Linked DNA regions of Homo sapiens. The protein of the gene in region 2 interacts with the protein of the main gene of each other region in a pairwise test. Each region holds a gene or a part of one and is shown on either strand. Other genes may lie near its edges. The genes, in order: CLIP4, ZNF114 and KLHL2.

What was found.
Region 1: the proteins of ZNF114 (region 2) and CLIP4 interact in binary tests that used the Homo sapiens proteins (3 or more experiments, as listed by UniProt).
Region 3: the proteins of ZNF114 (region 2) and KLHL2 interact in binary tests that used the Homo sapiens proteins (3 or more experiments, as listed by UniProt).

What each region holds. Positions count from the first base shown.
Region 1 is NC_000002.12:29,118,359-29,125,470, forward strand, and holds part of CLIP4 (CAP-Gly domain-containing linker protein 4), read left to right. Parts: exon of another isoform or gene 1-3; intron 4-3,015; 5' UTR 3,016-3,030; coding exon 3,031-3,163; intron 3,164-7,112.
Region 2 is NC_000019.10:48,273,028-48,280,139, reverse strand, and holds part of ZNF114 (zinc finger protein 114), read right to left. Parts: intron 5,589-7,112; exon of another isoform or gene 5,491-5,588; intron 410-5,490; 5' UTR 341-409; coding exon 332-340; intron 1-331. UniProt on the Homo sapiens protein: May be involved in transcriptional regulation.
Region 3 is NC_000004.12:165,315,482-165,322,593, reverse strand, and holds part of KLHL2 (kelch-like protein 2), read right to left. Parts: intron 4,769-7,112; coding exon 4,625-4,768; intron 1,283-4,624; coding exon of another isoform or gene 1,269-1,282; exon of another isoform or gene 1,243-1,268; intron 563-1,242; coding exon 534-562; 3' UTR 1-533. UniProt on the Homo sapiens protein: Substrate-specific adapter of a BCR (BTB-CUL3-RBX1) E3 ubiquitin ligase complex that mediates the ubiquitination of target proteins, such as NPTXR, WNK1, WNK3 and WNK4, leading most often to their proteasomal degradation.

The DNA.
Region 1 (7,112 bases), on a different chromosome or scaffold from region 2:
AAGGTATTTGAGCCACGTTATGTAAGATGCTTTTGCTAACAGCTAACTTGGAGTGATGAGTAGGGTGAAATTCCTATAGAAATCAGAGTTTGGGGAATTTGATTCTAGCTATTGTTAGTATCAGAGGCACCTGTTCTGTAGACAGTTGATTAGTGCCAATTTTTTTTTTTTTTTTTTGAGATGGAGTTTCGCTCTTCTTGCCCAGGCTGGACTGCAGTGGCGGGATCTCGGCTTACCGCAATCTCTGCCTCCCAGGTTCAAGCGATTCTTCTGCCTCAGCCTCCTGAGTAGCTGGGATTACAGGTGCCCTCCACCATGCCCAGCGAATTTTTTGTATTTTTAGTAGAGATGGGGTTTTGCCATGTTGGTCAGGCTGGTCTCGAATGCCTGACCTTGGGTGATCCACCTGCCATGGCCTCCGAAAGTGCTGGGATTACAGGTGTGAGCCACCATGCCTGGCAGGGCCAATATATATATATATATTTTTAACCTGAGGCTTACTTTATAATCAGTTATCACCAGTTAACCATAGTTGGATTTGGAATGAAAGTGTGTACTCAGTTCAGATCAGTATACTTAGACATTTGACCAAGAGTCCAGGTGTTGTAGGTCTTCAGATCCAGGAATTGCTTTTAGGAAATGAATCTGAGACTATAAGGAAGTTTATAGGGGTACATAGTTTCCTTTGGGAGGACAAAAGGTAGAATGTTAAGTTTTTCACGAAAATAAGGAAATGTAACTAGAGAAAAACGCAACAAAGACAAAATACAAAGAATGTTCACTGCATTGGTCAGGTAATATTGTAGCTTCTTCTGGACTTGAAGTATCTAATATGTAAAAGAATGAAGCTGGTTACATCTGATTGCATGAATCCTCTTTCCACTTTGAATCTAAGCTTTGAATATTAGTTAAATATGTGTAACACACTATTCTAGCTCCTGTGGTGACTGCTAGTTGTGTACGATAGAGTTCGTATCTTTGAGGATCTCAACAGTTTACAAGGAAATGAAAGGTGCTCTGGGGATCACTTAAAATTTTTTTTTTTGAATGGGAGACTCCACCCTTTGAAAGGGAAGTCATGTGGTGACTCCTCTTAACCGACTCAGACAGATATCCACTGAATCTTTTTGCTGAAGAATTAAGAGTATAAAAACATGTCTGAGTCCCAAACCGTGATTATAGTCAGATTAATTTTCCTAAAACAGCTTTAATCATGTTACTCTCTTTAAAAAAATCAGTAGTTTCCCAGTGCTCATGAAAGTAAGTGGTTTGGTCTTTGATGAGGTATTTGCTCCTCAGTACAGCCCTAAAAAGCCCTTACAGCCTCACCTCTGACTGTTTTCCTAGTCATATCCCAAGTTCCAGCCTACTGTTCTTTTAATGGGATCCCCTTTTATATTGATACCTATTCATCATTCAAGACTCATCACAGATGATACCTTCTTCACCATTTATGATTCTTAGAAGCTCCAACTGCAAATGTTCCTGGTACTTATGTGATGGAGCAGATCCCATTCTGCCTCATAATCTATAGTTATTAGTGGTATTTTATTCACCTTAATAGATTGTAAACTACCTAAGAAGCATGGACCATCTGTTAACTCATTTTTGTATTTGCTGAAACATCTAGAATAGTGTCTTGTATATAGTGGTTCCTTAATAAATACTCATTACTGTTTGGAATTGATAGTATTTGAGGAAGATCACCGCTGCTCTATAACACTAATTCCATGAACTTGTCATTTTCCTATTTATGTGGCAAGGTTAATGTCAAAATGCTTCTAAGTATTTGGTGGTAAGTAATTTTAGCATCCAAGAAAATGTGAATACCTTAAAATAGTAACAACTGGATTAGGTTACCTAATATATAACATCTATATCCATATAAGCATACGATTTTTGAGGAAAAAGAAAGCCTCCTACTTTTTACCAGTTCCTGCCAGTATTAAGAAAACATGAATCAAGTTAGGAAGACAACAGTGAGCTCAATGAAATGACTGTTTTATTGTAGTGGGGAACTGATGGTAAGGATAATTGAGTTAGATATAGGGTTGGTTAAGTAGAACAGAGCACACATTAAGTAGTAGCTAGTATGGTGTTGTCTACTACCAGATCAAGCCATTGATTACCTATTTTTATTCTGTGCTTTCTACTGAAATAATCTAAACTCATTTTTCATTTAGTTTTATAATGTTTTGCTTACATTTTAAAAACAGGAATTCATGATACTTCAGATAGTAAAGATCGGATACAAAAGAAACTGGAAGGCTTTTAGCTTCATAAGTTTGGTTTTACTAGCAGTTTCTCTGCTTTCTACATCATTTCTGAGATGTAGGCTAGGGTGTAGTACAAAGTCTAATTTAGAGCAAATTTATTCTAAGCACTCATGTTTTCTGGGAAAAAGAGGTAATATAAGCCATGTGCTTTAAAAGGCATGGCTTCCATCTTTGGCCAGGATAGAACTCACATACCTCGGACCTTGTTAAGTTGAACAATCTTAGTAAACTCTTAGATTTGTAAGAGGGATATGATTAATTTTCAGTAAAGTTTTCTGGGATAGAAAATAATGGAAACATTTTAAGGTAGATTATCTTCATGTGATGAGCACATGGCATGAGCTATTGGATGACAAATGATGTAACTTGTGCCAGTGTTATGGGAAGTTAAAGATCCATCTACAAGGGTTAATACGCCCTTGTTTGTTACATGAGTAGGAGGATTTCACCCATTTAGATTAGCTCAGCATTTAAAGTGTTTTCACCTATTTTATATTCCTTTTGAGCTTTGTCTAGAGAGATTACATGTGCTACCGACTGGTATAAGAGGTGGTGTGAAGCAATGTATGCCTTTTAACAACAGTTTTGCCAAAAGGAATTTTTTCCCTTTCATAAAAGATCCTTACTGAAAATGTCAGCAGATTTGACGTCAAATAACTTTTAGGCAGTTATTGAAGGCAGTCATTCTAAGTTGCATACAAATAAAGTAGAAACACTTTTTTTTTCTTTCTTATTATAGGTGGCTTTCTAGAAGATGACCATAGAGGACCTTCCAGATTTTCCATTAGAAGGAAATCCTTTGTTTGGAAGATACCCATTTATATTTTCTGCTTCTGATACCCCAGTTATCTTTTCCATTTCTGCAGCACCAATGCCTTCAGACTGTGGTATGTGAAGTAGCTGTGCTTATTTTCTGTGAACTGGTAACTTGACTTCTCTGTTACGCCTTTTTTGCACTCATAGTCTTTCTTAGAACCATTTTTATGGTTTTCATAAAATTGCTAAAGTTTTCCTTTTTCAAAAATACAATTGCTTATTGCTTTTTCTGCTTCTTAAGCTAAATGCTTTATTTCTGCTGTCAGCATTTATATTATGTTAAAATGTTCATTTTAAGCATCATGATGGATTTAGAGGACTTTATTTTTAGAAAGCAATGGTGCTTAGATATCTAGCATTCTTCTGCTATTGATGTATTTATTTTGGTTAAATATACTGACTTGCTAAAAAAGCCATGTACTTAGGCAAAGAGGGTAAGAGACCCTTCCCTGGAATGTGAAATGAGATTGGTTAATGTTTAAATTGGTCCATTTACATCTCCTCTGTAAAATGTTAATTTAGAAGCATTCCACTTCTCATCTATTTAGGCTTATTTCTCCAGAACCATAATAAAAGGGAACCAGGAGATAAATTTGATAGAATTGTTAAATTTCCAGTTTAGAGTTTTTCAAGTAAAATGTTGGTTCACCATTTCAAATTGTTTTTGGAGGTAGAGATCATACAATTTTTACATATTAGTAGATATTAGTAGATATAAAGTTATTGGACTGAGAATTTGTCTTTTTAGTCATATTCGTTGTAGTATAGTAATTCCTCATCTCCAAGTTTCTTTTTTTTTTTTTTTGTATTCAGATTCTTTAGCAGCTTACCTAGACCAGTCGTCAGAAGTATTATATAAAACCTGTGCCTTGATCTTGGGAGTTATCTGCAGGTTTTGCAGTAATCAACTGGGCTTATTTTCAGATATAACAAAATCAGTTATGCAGGGGAAACCTTGAACCTTGTGCATTGTACCTTAGGTATGATACTTGTCTCACTCCATCTTGACTTCTAATTGTCTTATTTTCTTTCCTATATTGTAGCGCTTTGGGATGGAGAACAATCATTTTATTTTTGTTTATCTCAAAAAGGCTAATATAGTCATTTGTTATTAGTTGCTCAATGATTGTTGAATAAATACATTGAATGAAAGGTAATAATGGATATTGACATTTTGCATAACTGGAATTAAACGTTGAAACCCCGTCTCTACTAAAAATACAAAAATTAGCCAGGCATGGTGGTGTGCGCCTATATTGTCAGCTACTCAGGAGGCTGAGGCAGGAGAATCACTTGAACCAGGAGGCAGAGGTTGCAGTGAGCTGAGATCGCATCACTGCACTCCAGCCTGGGCCACAGAGTGAGACTTTGTCTCCAAAAAAAAAAAAAAAAAAAAAAAAGCATTGTAGTCTTAGAATTATAGGTTTTTGTAGACTCTTATGAACCTTTCCCCACTCACCTCCCTGTGTAGACATCATATTTTCAGGATCTCTGTCAGATAACCATTTAACCTCTTGCATGTCTTCAATAGTGGGAAACTAACAAAATAGTTAATTTTATTGTTAAAAAGCTTTAGTTGTAATAAAATTGTTTTCGTATGTTGACTCAAAATTGGTCTCCCTGAAATTTTGGCCAAGTGATTCTAGTTTGATACATGGCACAAATTCCTTTATAGGATAGCCTTTAAGTATCTGCAGATAGTTTGAACATTTTAACTTAGCCTGAAACTCCTTAGGCTACACATTTCTGTTTCCTTCACCAGTTTCTCATTGTCAGGATTTCTAGACCCTTTTCATCGTAGCTGCTTTCTTGGTACACTGTGGTCAGTCTCCCCTTGAAAAGCGGCATATATAATTGCATTTATTGAGCAAGTATTTATTGAGGGCCTCTTGTGTGCTAGGGACTGTCCTGGATGCTGGAGATATCAGTGACCAAGACAGGTCTTCTATAGGGAAGACCAGTAAACAAACAAATGAATAGACAAAGCAAAAATAGGTCATAATGAATTCTGTGGAAGAAAGAAACAGGGTGCTGTGATAGAGAACAATGGGGGCAAGGCAGCTGCTTTAGATGGGGTGGTCATTCGGAGAATCAGAAGAGGCTGGCTGTGAGAAGAGCCTGGGAAGAAGTGTTCCAGGAAGGAAAACAGAAAACTAAAGGCACAGTGTTGAGGGAAGACCTTGGTATATCCTAAGAATTAATGGAAGGTCTTTGTGGCTGAGAAGCAAAGTGATTGATGGCAGAGTGGGAGGAGAAGGAATTGGAGAGTAAGACACCGGCCAGGTCATGCGGGGTCATGTAGGCCCCCATAGGGAATTTTTATATAATACCAACTAATGAGTGTAAAACAAAGAAACAAAAAGAAACCAGTCCACAGAAACCAGAGTTGAGGCATGTGACTCAGTGTTGACTCTCAAGGTGATTACCCTGTGAAACTATGTACTGTTCTTGCATAACAATTTTTGGAATCTTTTGCTTTGAAATGCCTTCAGAATCAGTTCATGCAGAATACACATTATATACATTATAAATACCAAAATACCTTATTATATATTTTGCTTAAACATTGAATTATCTGTTAAATTTAAATAATATAAAAAAATCTCATTTACCCATGTAGTTACCATTTCTAGTGCTCTTCATTCCTTTGTGAGTGTAGGTCCAGATTTCCATCTGATACCATTTCCTTCCGCCTGAAGCACTTCCTGTAATGTTTCTTATGGTGCTGGTCTGCCAGTGATGAATTCTTTCAGCTGTTTTATGTCTGAAAACATCTTTATTTACCTTATTTTTTTGAAAAATGTGTTTGCTGGGTTTAGAATTATAGGTTGGTAGTTTTCTTTCAGTACTTGAAAGATCTTGCTCTGCTCTCTTCCCATTTGCATTGTTTCTGCTGTCATTTTTGTTTCTCTAGATGTAATGTCTTTTTTTTGGCTGCTTTAAAGAGTTTTTATTTTGAGCAATTTTACTATTATGTGCTTAGGTATTGTTTTCTGTATGTTCTTGTGCTTGGGTTTGGTTGAGCTGCTTGGATCTGAGTTTCAGTTTTCATTAAGTTTGGGAAATCATTTAAAAAAATTTTTTGTCTGCTTCTCCCCGTTTTCAGATACTGTAATTGCATGTATATTATAGACTGCTTGAAGTTGTCCCATAACTCACTGATTTATTTTATATTTAAACATTTTTTTCTCTTTATTTTGGATAGTTTATATTACTGCATCTTCAAGTTCATTAATCTTTCCTTCTGCAGTGTCTAATTAATTAGCTGCTGATTTTTTCCAGTGCAGTTTTCATTTCAGATGAAGTTTTCATCTCTAAAGTTTGCTTTGGCTCTTTTTTATGCCCAGGTCTCTTCTCCACCTTTGAACATTTGGAATAGAGTTATATTGACTGTTTTAATGTCCTTCTCTGTTAATTATAATATCCATGTCAACTCTAGGTCTATTATTCCCCTGATTATGGGTCATGTTTTCTTCTTTCTTTGCTTGCCTGATAATCTTTAATTGGCTGCCAGACATTGTGAATTTTACCTTGTTAGATGCTGGATATTTTTGTATTCCTGTAAGTATTCTTGAACTTTGTTCTGGGATACAGTTTAGTTACTTGGAAATAGTTGGACCCTTTGAGGTCCTACTTTTCTGATTTGTTAGGTGGGTCTGGAGCCATTCTTGGCCTGGGGCTAATTGTTCCCTACTACTGAGAATTCCACTCCAGGGGCCCTGAACCCCCTGGCTACGGACTGGTACTGGTCCCCCTACCCCGGCCCCTGGTGCCAGAAAGATTGGGGACTGCTGTTCTACTCAATGCTGTGTGAATTATGAGGATTCTTTTTCAATCTTCCTTGTGAGAATAGGCACTAATCCCTGTAGTCCTTATGGATGGTTCTTTCCCTTACTTCAAGTATTTCCTCACAAGCATATGATGAATAGTTGAGGAGGACCCTGCACAGGTCTCTGGGTTTCTCTTGGAGTGTGTGCATCCATCTCTGCTGTATTCTGCCCTGTGACCTCTGGCCGCCTC
Region 2 (7,112 bases):
AAGTCCTGGAATTACAGGCTTGAGCCACTGCACCCCACCAAAGACACTTTCAGCTCCTTTCTTAGTGTGCTTTGCAGCAGAACGTGAAGCCCACTGGCAGCCAGGATGAGGTGTGGAAAGGACCAGTCAGTACTGGGGTGGGGGTGGTCCCAGGAGAATCCCCAGGGCAGCATCTCTCTCCAAGCAGAGGTGCAGAGACCTAGGGCAGCACGGCTGGCGGGGGGCCCTGCCTGGCTCCATGTGCTTTACCTGACTCCCAGCCACAGGCAGAGGCACATTGACTCGTGGGAACGACAACACGCTTCTGGGAGAGGGTGAGCTGCCAACTTACCTGGGACATATTTGTCACCAACGTGACGGCCAGTCCTGGCTTCCCCGTGTTTCCTTCAAGGAGGCAGGTGAGGCAGAGCTTGGGAGAAGAATGGAGCTATGAGAATCCAGGCACCCTGCCTTCCCCACACTCGTATGTGGATCCTGCCTGACATTAATCTCAGCATATAAATGCACGTGTGCACACACTTCCCCACCACAGCCCACAACCCCCACCCCCTCTACACCCACCCACCCACACACCCACACACCCCCATCCCCTCACTCCAACCCCCTTACGCCCACCCACCCACACACCCCATCCCCCCACCCACACACACACTCACACACACACCCACACACCCCCATCCCCCCACCCCCGCCCCCCACACAGACACCCACACACACACCTATATTTTAATTTAATTTTTTAGAGACAGAGACTTGTCCTGTTGCCCAGGCTGGAGTGCAGTAGTGCAATCATGGCTCACTACAGCCTCAAACTTCTGGGCTCAAGTGATCCTCCTGCCTCAGCCTCCTGAGTAGCTGAAGGTACAGGCATGGGCCCCCATGCCTCCTAATTTTTCATATTTATTTTCATAGAGATGGGGTCTCACTATGTTGCCTAGGCTGGTCTCAAATTCCTGGCCTCAAGCAGCATTTTTTTTTAATCGAGGTGAAATTTGCATATCATGAAGTTAACCATTTTAAGTGAACAATGCAGTGGCATTTAGTGCATTTGCAATGTTGTACAAACGTCACCTCTACCTAGTTCCAAATACTTTTCATCACCGCAAAATAAAACCCCATCCCCCTTAGCAGTCACTTCCCATTCTCCCCTTCACCCAGCTGCTGGCAGCCGCTAATCTAATTGCAATTTTTTTTTTTGAGACGGAGTCTCACTCTGTTGCCCAGGCTGGAGTGCAGTAGCACGATCTCAGCTCACTGCAGCTTCCGCCTCCCTGGTTCAAGTGATTCTCCTGTCTCAGCCTCCCGATTAGATGCCATTACAGGTGCCTGCCATCACACCTGGCTAATTTTTTGTACTTTTAGTAGAGATGGGATTTCGCCATGCTGGCCAGGCTGGTCTCGAACTCCTGACCTCAAGTGATCCGCCCGCCTCGCCCTCCCAAAGTGCTGGAATTAGGGGTGTGAGCACCGCACCTGGCCCATAGCGGTATTCATTACAGCCCAAAGTAGAGACAACCCAATACTGATCAATGCATGAACAAAGAAAGCAAACGTGGTCTATCCGCACCATGGAATATTACCCAGCCATAAAACGGACTGAGGCACTGACACACACTACAACCCAGTGAGCTCTGAAAACAGGATGCTGAGTGAACGAAGCCAGACACAAAAGACCACAGTGTATGACCCCATTGAAAATGAAATGTCCAGAATAGGCGAATCTATAGAGACAGAAAGCAGATCAGAGGTTGTCCAGGGCTGGGGGAGATGAGGGACTGGGAGATGACCACTGAAGGATACAGGGCTTCTTTCAGGGGTGATGGAAATGTTCTAAATTTGAGGGACGTACACGTCTGTGAATATACTAAAAGCCATTGAATTGCACCCTTTAAGAAGGTGAATTGGGCCGGGCGCGTTGGCTCAAGCCTGTAATCCCAAGACTCTGGGAGGCCGAGGCAGGTGGATCACTTGAGGTCAGGAGTTTGAGACCATCCTGGCCAACATGGCGAAACCCTGTCTCTACTAAAAATACAAAAATTAACCGGGCGTGGTGGCGCACACCTGTAATCCCAGCTACTTGGGAGGCTGAAGGCAGGAGAATCACTTGAATCTGGGAGGTGGAGGTTGCAGTGAGCTGAGATCGCACCACTGCACACCCCAGCATGGGCAACAGAGCGAGACTCTGTCTCAAAAAAAAAAATTTCAAATATAAGATGAAAAGTGTTCATGTTACTGGGAAGTCAGATTTTTAGTGTAAGAGGAAAAAGTTTCAAATATAAGATGAAAAGGCTTCATATCGTCACGAACACACACACACACACACACACACACACACACACACACACCCAATGCCTCCCTGGTCAGTCTATTCATAGAAAATGCTTAGAAGAATTAAGAAGCAGGAGGCAATGAACACCCTCGGAAACATGGCTGATCTGGGAACAGAAAATTCCCAGTGTGAGCCTTGCGGTGCCAGATGGCAGGGGAGCTGCCCTAGACCGCGTTAGGAGGATGCACAGCGGCTGGAAACGTCTCCCAGCGGCCGGATTTGAACTACAAAGTGAATCATTGCAATTGATGGAAACACACTGAACACTAAAAATACCTGCGCTCATAATGATACCCAGACAGAGAAAACCAGAGGGGGAAAAAAACACAAGCCTTGGTTAATAAAGAGGAAAAATTAAGCCTTTACTTTGCCTTTCCAATAAGAAAAGAAACGGAATAGCCTTACGGATGACGGAAAACTACAGAATTCCAGCTACATATTCATTTTTTTATTTTTATTTTTTGACACAAGGTCTCATTCTGTCATCCAGGTTGGAGTGCAGTGGGGAGATCTCGGCTCACAGCAGCCTCTGCCTCCTGAGTTCAAGTGATTCTCCTGCCTCAGCTTCCCAAGTAGCTGGGACCACAAGCGCCTGCCACCACGCCCAGCTAATATAACAAAAATATATATATTAAAAAAAATTTTTTTTTGAGACAGGGTCTCATTCTGTCGCCCAGGCCGGAGTGCAGTGGCACGATCTCAGCTCGCTGCAACTTCCACCTCCTGGGTTCAAGCAATTCTCCTGCCTCAGCAGCCTCCTGAGTAGCTGAGATTACAGGCTTGGGCCACCACGCCCAGCTAATTTTTGTATTTTTAGTAGAGACGGGGTTTCACTATGTTGGCCAGGCTTGTCTCAACTTCTGACCTCAGGTGATCCGCCTGCCTCGACCTCTCAAAGTGCTGGGATTACAGGCGTGAGCCACCACGCCCAGTCCCAGCTACATGTTTAGTTGGGACAATTGAATATTTTTAAAAATCACCATTTTGGGCTGGGCTGGGTGGTTCACACCTATAATCCCAGCATGTTGGGAGGCTGAGGCAGGAGGATCACTTGAGCCCAGGATTTTGATACCACCCTGGGCAACATAGCGAGGCCCCATCTCTACAAAAAATTTAAAAATTAGGTGGGCACGCTGGCGTGCGCCTCTAGTCTCAGCTACTCAGGAGGTTGTGGGGTGGGAAGATCATTTGAGCCCAGGAGGTTGATGCTGCAGTGAACTATGATTGCACTACTGCACTCCAACTTGGGTGACAGAATGAGGCCCTATCTCAACAAAAAAAAATCATCATTTTGCAACCTTAATAAAACAACTGATTCAGGAAATAAGACACGTCGGTGGACACAGAAAGGGGAGGCAGTCATTAGCAGGGTACGGAGGCATCACTCAGGACTTGCTGGGCGTAAAGGAATGCAACTTTCAGAGGTAAGGCTCTGCAGGTGCAGTGGCCTAAGGCTGTAATCCCAGTATTCTGGGAGGCTGAGGCAGGCAGATCACCTGAGGTAGGGAGTTTGAGACCAGCCTGACCAACATGGAGAAACCCCGTCTCTACTAAAAATACAAAATTAGCCGGGTGTGGTGGCACACGCCTGTAATCCCAGCTACTCGGGAGGCTGAAGCAGGAGAATCACTTGAACCTGGGAGGCGGAGGTTGCGGTGAGCCGAGATTGCACCACTGCACTCCAGCCTGGGCAACAAGAGCGAAACTCCATCTCAAAAAAAAAAAAAAAAAAAAAAGAGGTAAGAGGCTCTCTCACCTCCAGAAACTACCCCACCAATGTTAGCTTGACTTGTACAGGGACAAACAGCCATTATAGCTTTTTTTTTTTTGAGATGGAGTCTCACTCTGTCACCCGGGCTGGAGTGCAGTGGTGCGATCTCAGCTCACTGCAAGCTCTGCCTCCCGGGTTCACCCCATTCTCCTGCCTCAGCCTCCCCAGTAGCTGGGACTACAGGCGCCCGCCACTGCGCCCTGCTAATTTTTTGTATTTTTAGTAGAGACGGGGTTTCACCGTGGTCTCGATCTCCTGACCTCGTGATCTGCCTGCCTCGGCCTCCCAAAGGGCTGGGATTACAGGAGTGAGCCACCGCGCCCGGCAACAAACAGCCATTATAGTTACACTGATGTGATGAACACACCACCTACGATGTATCTTTCATTTTTATTTTGTTTAAATTTTTCTTTGTTATTATATATGTTTCAAGACAAGGTCTCGCTCTATCACCCAGGCTGGAGTGCAGTGGCACTAGCTTGGCTCACTGCAACCTCTGCTTTCTGGGTTCAAGAGATTCTCCTGTCTTAGCCTCCCAAGTAGCTGGGAGTACAGGCGACCACCACCACGCCTGGCTATTTTGTGTGTGTGTGTGTGTGTGTGTGTGTGTGTGTGTGTGTTTTAGTAGAGACAGGACTTCATCATGTTGGCCAGGCTGGTCTTGAACTCCTGACCTCAGGCGATCATCCTGCCTCAGCCTCCCAAAGTGCTGGGATTAAAGCCACGAAGCCTGACCAACCTAGGATGTTTCTGTCTCCCTCCCTCCCTCCCTTCCTCTCTCTTTTTCCCTCCCTCCCTCCCTCCCTTCCTTCCTTCCCTCTCTCTTTCTCTCTTCCTCTCTCTTTTTCTCTCTCTCTTTCTCTCTTCCTCTCTCTCTTTCTCTCTTTCTTTCTTTTTTGAGACAGGGTCTCACTCTGCTGCCCTGGCTGGAGTGCAGTGGTGTGATCAGAGCTCACTGTAGCCTTGACCTCCTGGGGTCAAGCAGTCCTCCCACCTCAGCCTCCCAAAGTGCTGGGATCACAGGCGTGAGTCACCGTGCCTGGCCAGGTCTAACTTTCAACGACACAAGGAACAACCACACAAATGCACAGGCGTGGACGTTCTGCCATTCTGACTACCCAGGGACTCCAACTAGTAAATGTCATGAACAAAGGGAGGCAAGTTCGAGGGTGTGAGCCCTGGAAGAGAAACGCACACAATGTGTTTGCATCCTGCCTAAAGAAACATAACTCTAGGCCAGGCGTGGTGGCTCACGCCTGTAATCCCAGCACTTTGGGAGGCCGAGGCGGGCAGATCACCTGAGGTTGGGAGTTCGAGGTCAGCCTGACCAACATGGAGAAACCCCATCACTACTAAAAATGCAAAATTAGCCCGGCATGGTGGCACATGCCTGTAATCCCAGCTACTAGAGAGGTTGAGGCAGGAGAATTACTTGAACCTGGAAGGCAGAGGTTGCGGTGAGACGAGATTGCACCACTGCACTCCAGCCTGGATAACAAGAGAAAAACTCTGTCTCAAAAAAAAAAAAAAAAATATATATATATATATATATATATAAAAGTTTTTTTCTATTAAAACAAAACAAAAACAAACCCCCAAAACTCTTCCTGCTCCAAATGTGACATCTGATGACCGTTTAATGACTGTGGTCAACTTAAATAGTATAAGATGAGTCATTTGTTCATAAAATGTTAGAATGCCATAAAATCTACAACTTACATGATATTTGGAAGAAACTTGATGGCAAGTTCCCTCAATTTGAGGACAAATCTAAACGTTTACATGACACTGTCAGCAATGAATTGCGGACTCAAAACTTTTCTAAACCATTAATAATTTAAAAATTAAATTAATCATATGAGAAAAAGCTGAATTTATATATAGACACTCACACATAAATATATGTGTGTATATATTTATATATATGTGTGTGTGTATGCATTTATATATATACATGTATAAAAATATATATACATATATATTGGCCAGGCACGGTGGCTCACGCCTGTAATCCCAGCACCTTGGGAGGCCGAGGTGGGCGGATCACGAGGTCAAGAGATCAAGATCATCCCGGCTAACACGGTGAAACCCCGTCTCTACTAAAAATACAAAAAATTAGCCGGGCGTGGTGGCGGGCGCCTGTAGTCCCAGCTACTCGGGAGCCTGAGGCAGGAGAATGGCGAGAACCCGGGAGGAGGAGCTTGCAGTGAGCCGAGATAACGCCACTGCACTCCAGCCTGGGCGACAGAGCGAGACTCCGTCTCAAAAAAAAAAAAAAAAAAGAAAAGCCCCACTGTTGCCTGGGGGATCCAAGTCACTTTGACACAGAAGCAAGCCTGTGCAACTCAGGGGCTGAGCTGTAAATAAGAGTTTTTGAGACACAACATTCCACGTCTATCTTGACCTTATAGTTCCCAAGGAAACAGCCACACCTGATGATAACCCCATTACACGCATCTCAGCTGTAAGCCTACCTAAGAAGATAAAACCGCCTATTTCAATTTAAGTTTCCCTGAATTCCGTCCTTTCCCCAATACAATTGGAGCGCCGGTTCTGACCCTAGTAACCTCAGACACATCAGCTCAGGACAGTAGTTTAAAAAAAAAAAAAACAGAAAAGAAAAGAAAAAGAAAAACAACGCATCATTGTGAGTCAGCTCAGGTGAGCAGGCTGAGGTTGGCTTTTGCCTGATTGTCCATGACGAAGATATACCTGGCTGATGAAACACATTCCCACCTTTGCCCTGAGTTCCAGTAAATCAGACCTCACCGGAGCGGATTAGTGATAAAAATGCATCTTGTTCCGACCGTGGGGTTTGATCCTGACACCTTCACACCACTCTCCTTGCAGCTTGTCCTTTTTATATATTTCCTCTGCTGAGGTCTCAGTTCCCATAAAAGACCATGTTCAGCACACGGAACTCAAACCCTCAAAGCTCTTTATCTGGCCAGGCGCTGTGGCTCACGCCTGTAATCCCAGCCCTTTGGGAGGCCGAGGCGGGCAGATCACGAG
Region 3 (7,112 bases), on a different chromosome or scaffold from region 2:
TAGACACACATTTATATGCACATAATTTATTATATTCATGTAATCAAAGTTATTTTATAAAAGCAAACAGTGTATCCCTCAACTAGTTTGTATACTTACGTAGATTTTAATATCTGTTCAAAGATTTTCAGTTCCTGGTATACAGATTTTTAGAAGAAATAAAGATAAAATTTAATTTTACAAGAACACACATTACTTCATCCTCCTTCACAAAATAATCTGTAGTCATTCAAGGTTGATAAGAACTAGTCTTTATGAAAGCAACTGTTGTCTAAAGACTACAGATTAAGTCCTGCAGTCCAAGTTTCTTATGAAAATTCAGTCAGCTGCTGCTCATTGCAGAAAAAGCCTACACGGTGCTTCTACCAAAAATAATCTTCAGTATCTGAGGCCTATAAAGGCAGACGATCGTATCTTCTGCTGAGACTTAAAGTGCAGCTACAAGTGGAGAAGTGCTAGATTCTCAGTCACTTCACAAATACTTGTTGAAGGCTGTTTCTCATGTATAAATATGCTGAAAATGTCCTTCAGGCTCATAATGGTTTATCAATAACTGTGACCCCTGAGCAAAGAAATGAAGAGAGAAAAAAGAAGTCACAGGCAGCACTCTGTATCTCTGAGAAAACACTCAATTCTTCATTATAATACGAAGGCAGGAGGAACTGTACAAATCATGTTTCAGAATCTCTTTCTTAAACTTTAGTAGTATTATCATTTGAATCTAAATGACAGTGAAAACTCTGTTTAGTTATGGGCTAGTTAAATATAAGACTATTTAATCCAGAACTAGTCTTTTCCTCTTTGTAGTTACAATTTGGAAAATATACTCAAAAGGGAACACAGAAACTTTTGAGCATGATGGATATGTTCATTATCTTGATTGTGGTGATGGTTTCATGGGTATATACTCTGTCAAAAGTAATAAAATTATATAGTTTAAATATACAGTTGACCCTTGAACCGACATGGGGGTCAGGGGTGCTGACCCTCCACGCAGTCAAAAACCCATGTATAATTTTTTACTCCCGCATAATTTAATTACTAATAGCTTACAGTTGACCAAACGCCTTACTGATACAGTCAATTAACACATATTTTACATGTAATATATGTTATGTATGTCATAACATGTTATGTGTTATATATTGTATTCTTAAAGTAAGCTACAGAAAAGGAAATGTTATTTAAAAAGTCATAAGGAAGAGGAACTATATTTACTATTCATTAAGGGGAAGTGGATCATCATCAAGGTCTTCATCCTTGTCTCTTCACATTGAGCAGGCTGAGGAGGAGGAGAAAGAGGAGAGGTTGGTCTTGTTGTTTCAGGGGTGGCAGAGGCAGAAGAGGTGGAGGAGGTGGAAGGGAAGGCAGGGGAAACAGGAGAGGCAGACACACTTGGTGCAACTTTAAGGAAATACACTGTTAATTCCTGTCTGACTTTTTTGTTTTTTTCATTTCTCTAAAAATGTTTCCACATAATACCAATCGTCTTTCCACTACTTTCTTCAGTTACAGTGCACATATCATAGAAGGGCCCATTTCATAAAGTAAGTCATAAACAGTCTTGAATAACCAAACCCTTTTGCCAGACTGTCTAATGTCAATTTGTTTTCTGACATTGCTTCTACATCTTCTTCATTGTCTGGCAGTGGTTAAGAAGCACTCATCTCCGTCGAGTCATGTTCTGTTAATTTCTCTGGTTTGGTATCTATTAGCTCTTGAATTTCTCCAAGATCCATACCTTGAAACCCTTCACCATCAACCTTTATAGCCACATCCATGATCTCTTTCATGATTTCTTTGACTGGCTCTGTCATAACTCCTGTGAAGTCATACACAACATCTGAACACAGTTTTTTTCCAGCAGGAATTTATTGTTTTGGGTTTGATGACTTTCATAGCTTTTTCTATAACAATGATATATTCAATGGTGTAATCCATCCAGACTTTCATGTTTTCTCTGTTGAGATTCTCTTCCATAGCACTGGCAATTTTTTCCATAGAGTGCCATGTATAATGAAACTTTAAGGTTCCTATGGTCACTGATCTAGAGGCTGAATTAGATACATTGTGTTTAGGGGCAAGTAGACCACTTCTATGCCTTTGGTGTTGAACTCATGGGGTTCTGGGTGGCCAAGGGCACTGTCCAATATCAAAATAAAAAGCAGTCCCTTACTGGCATGGTACTTCCTGAACCTGAAGCATAGATGGAACCAGTCCGGGAAAAGATTTCTTGTCTAGGCCTTCTTGTTATACAGTCAAAAGACTGGCAGCTGGTATTTATATTTTCCCTTCAAGGATTGGGGGTTAGCAACTTTTTAGATAAGAGCAGTCCAAATCATAAACCCAACTGCATTTGCACAAAATAGTAGAGTTAGCTTATCCCTTTCTGCCTTAAATTCTGGTGCTTGCTTATCTTCCTAATAAATGTCCCTGGTGGCACATTTGTCTGCATTAAAAACTTGTTCAGGCAGATATCCATTCTCCTCAACAACTTTCTTCATGGCATCTGGGAGCTCATCTGCTGGCCCCTTGGTTGACAGAAGTGTTCTCCTGTTATCTTGACATTTTTTGAGCCAAACCCCTTTCCAAAATTATCAAGTCATCCTTTGCTTGAGTAGGCTGAGGAAATTCTCCAGCTTTAGATCCTTCACCTTCCTTTTGCTTCAGGTTGTCACATAATGACTTTCCTTTTTCTCAAATCATATTAGAGTTGACAGGTATGCCTTTCTTACAGCAATCCTGCACCCACCAAAAACCAAAACCAAAAAGTCAAAAATAATAAAAATAATAAAAATTTAAAAATTAGCCAGGTGTGGTGGCACATCCCTGTAATCCCAGCTACTCAGGAAGCTGAGGCATGAGAATCGTTTGAATCTGGGAGGCGGAGGTTGCAGTGATCTGAGATCACGCTGTTGCACTCCAGCCTGGGCGACAAGAGTGAGATTCTGTCTCAAAAACAAAAATCCTGCACCCACATAAAAGCTGCATGTTCAACACAAGATAAAAAGGGATTTCACAAAAAGTGTGAAGTTTTCAAAACTGCTGGGATGGCTGCAGGGACGGCTTCATGAATTTCCTTTTTCCTTTTTACAATGATCCCTACCCTGGATTCATTTATTTTGAAATGGTGGGCAAGTGCAGCAGCAGACCTCAATCCATGGTATATCTCAAGCAATTCAGCTTTTTCTTGTAATGTCATGACTCTTCTCTGCTTCGTTGAAGCACTTCCTAGCACCATCACCGGTGGCACTTTGTATGGGTCCCATGGTATTATTCAAGGTTTATGATATTGCAGTAAACATGATGAAAAATAAGGCAGAACCATGAGAGAGAACTTTTTACTGAGATACGCATCGCTGAAGAGACAAACTGCTCTTTCAAAGGTAATTAGCCCCCCACAGCTTTTTAAGTGGATACTCACAACAGCTGAGCTCACCAATACAGCAACAGGAGACGGCTATAAAATTATTATAGTAGTACAGTAACATACTACAGTTAATTTCATGCAGTTATGATTTAATATTGTATCTTTGTGGTTTGTTCACATTTCTCTGGACTGTGAATGACACCATCTATGGTTTGTGGGTGTTTGTTCCCATAAGAGTTTGTGTGCATATGTTTTGATAAATTTTAACTTTTTGTAACAGATTTGTAGATATTTTGTAGTAAATGATAAAACAGACTAGTATCTACGTATATTTTATGTGTTCATAATCTTAAACTTAATTTTTTCAATATTTCTAGGTTATGCAGTGCATCTGAGTTTTTTCAAACTGTTACCAATCTCCAAAAAAATTTTTCCAACATAATTATTGAAAAAAATCCACATGTAAGTGGACATACACAGTTCAAACCTGTGTTGTCCAAGGGTCAACTGTACGCTATGTATTCTGTCAGTTTATACCTCAATGAAGTTGTTTTAAAAATTCATCTAATATTCACCCATGTTATACTGGAATTCTACTGTACATAGTTCTTCTCAGTACTGTTTTGAATGATACATAAGCAACAGTGATGGTTAATGAGCTTAAACATTTTCTTCCTCCACTATTGGATCAATTTTGTTACAGAAACATTATACTATTAAAAGCAAGATAAATATAATTGAAATAAATAACATAAAGACTCACCATAATATTTATTAAAATTAACATTTATCTTACTAAGAGAATGGACCAAAAAATCACATTTTATAACTCAACCAGTACTATGCTTAAGAAAGAAAAATTATTCCACAGCCTCACTATAATACTATCTCATGGAGCCACACCATGGGGAGATGTAGGAATCCTATCCTATTTCTTGGACATCTCAGGAATTAAAGCCTTGCCACATATGAATTCTTCTCCTCTGCATACAGATTTTAGCTACATTAAATTTTATTATATGATTTTGTATATCAAAGATTTGGGATTTTGAATACAAATGACTGTAGAATGACAAAAGTATACTGGTGCTTTATTTCAGAATATACACAGCCAATGTTAATCATCTTAAGAATAAGATATAAACTATACCTTGAGAAAAGACTTTATTCTTATAACAGAAAAACTTCGTTAATATAACATTCATAATGAGGTCATCTTTTTGTACGGAAATTGACTTTAGAGACAACTGTTACCTGCATAACTTCTCCCTGTGCTCATACACGATGACACAACTGTCCATTTATCGGTTGTTGGGTTATAATATTCTACTGACGCCAAGTTACAGGAACCATCATCCCCTCCAACAACATATAACAGACCATTAACTGCACAAACTCCTTTAAAAAATTACAGAGAGAAAACAATTATTTAAAAAATTGGGATGAATATGAGTATCACTGTACATGTTTAGTGAGGTAATCCAGAGACACTAATTTCTTTGAAAGGAGGCAAGAAGAGAAAATAGTGAGCATGAAAAGAATTCGTTTTATATTAGGATAGCCAGGCACCATGGCTCACGCCTGTAATCCCAGCACTTTGGAAGGCCAAGGTGGGCAGATCACTTGAAGTCAGGAGTTCGAGATGAGCCTGGGCAACATGGCAAAACCCCATCTCTACTAAAAATACAAAAATCAGCCAGGCATGGGGGAGTGTGCCTGTGGTCCCAGCTACTCCAAGAGGCTGAAGCCGGAGAATCACTTGAACCCAGGGAGGCAGAGGCTACAGAGAGCCAAGACCACACCACTGCTCTCCAGCCTGGGCAACAGAGTGAGACTCTGTCTCCAAAAAAAAAAAAAAGAATTCTTTCTATATTAGGAGACCATAATACCACTTCTAAGCTCCTACTGAGTGTCATTTATGCAGTAGTTACTTTATATATGCATTATTCTACCTAATTTTCACAACATTATAGGTTAGAAACTATTTTGACCCTCATTTTTTTTTTTTTAATAAAAAGTCAAAGTCAGCTACTTAGGGAATCTTAAGGAAGAAAATATATGTTAGTAGAAGGTAAAAATATTCTTAATTTTAATTATCACACTGAATGGTTAGCTATTTTATCTCCCTTTAAAGAGAACAATATTATTTATCTATTAAAATAACTCTTTTCTTTGCAAAAATTCAAAACATCTAGAAAAGTATTATAAGAAAAAAAGATGACCTCCAACCTTATGTCTCTTAGAATAATGACCATTAAAATTTTGATCTCTACTCTGGCTAACTTTTCTCCATGCATATATACTCAGACACTTTCTTTTTTAACCCCAAAGTAGCTCACACTACACATGCTACTTTATTAAATAACTTACCCACCCTGGCCAACCAACCTACCTTGGACATTTCCTCAAGTTAATAAATATAAATGTAATTTTTATGTATGACAGTTTATTTAATCATTTTTTTACTGATGGATATTTAAGTAATTTTGATTTTTTTGCTGTTACCAATGATGTTGCAATGAACAAAGATCCCCTGAACAGTGTTTTGAATACTTGAGCAATTTTTCTTAATATAAATTATTAGAAGGAAAACTGCTGAGTCTAATGGTAAATGCTTTTAAAAAGCTATTTCAATGTAATTTTTTAAAAGTACATTTAATTTCTTATAAAAAGTTCAGTGCTACTATGAACTTATACTAGAGGGCATCAAAGAATCCCGAATAATGCTGCCCAAATCTACAAAACTTTGTAGGAAAAAAACTCATACCATTTTAAAGTTGTTCAAATACTTAAAAGCAAGAATCAAATGCTGCTGCCACACAAGCTCCACACAGTAGTTACATGTGTATGCAACACTGTATTTCAGCCTATTGATGGACAACATAGGACTGTGAGAGAAAAAATGATCTCAAAAATGGCCCTGCTATGATGGAAGGCATGAACAAGGAGACTATATTGTTCTAAAGAGTTTTCCCAATCATATCTATGAGGGGCTCACAGATTAAAGAGCATCCCACTGCAGAAAGGGAGGTTGGTCCATACATCCATTTGAATATCTTAGCTATACATTCAGAAGACATCAATTTTACTAACCCACTAACTCACAACACCAGATTCCTTTTAGGCGATAGGAGCCAAATCACTTTGCCAAAAGGATGCACCTTCCTGCAGTGTTTGATGGTTCCAGTTTATTCAGTTTACTTCAACACAATCAAATTCATATTGAGAACCTATTACAGATGTGCTAGGTATTAAAGGTCTATATATAATCATCTAATTCAAATTTATTTCATTTTTACTCCACTCTTGGTGTCATAATTTACCATACTTATGAAAACTTTTGAAATCTGGCTTGTAAGCTGCTTGCTATTTCAAATTTATATGGATGCTTTCACCTCTCCCCGCTTAACATTGAATACATGTCCTCCACTCTTTGCCAGCTTAGTTCTTTCTTTCCAATAATTTAGGTGCTTGGATGAGGTCCTTAGCCTAGGTTATTAAAAAGGAAGAGCTGAACAGATCTTATCAGAAGTTTGTTTCAGATTATCAGGAATATGGAATGAGGGTGAGATTTTAAAATACTCTTATGAACTTAAATAATTTTAAAATATATGCTCAATTGGATTATACTGTATCTTGTAAATTATAGAAGTAAATAATTCAAATTTTGTTATTTGCATAGAAAATAAACATCATTGATTGAGAAGGAAAAACAAACTGAAAAGTAAGCTTTCAGATTTCT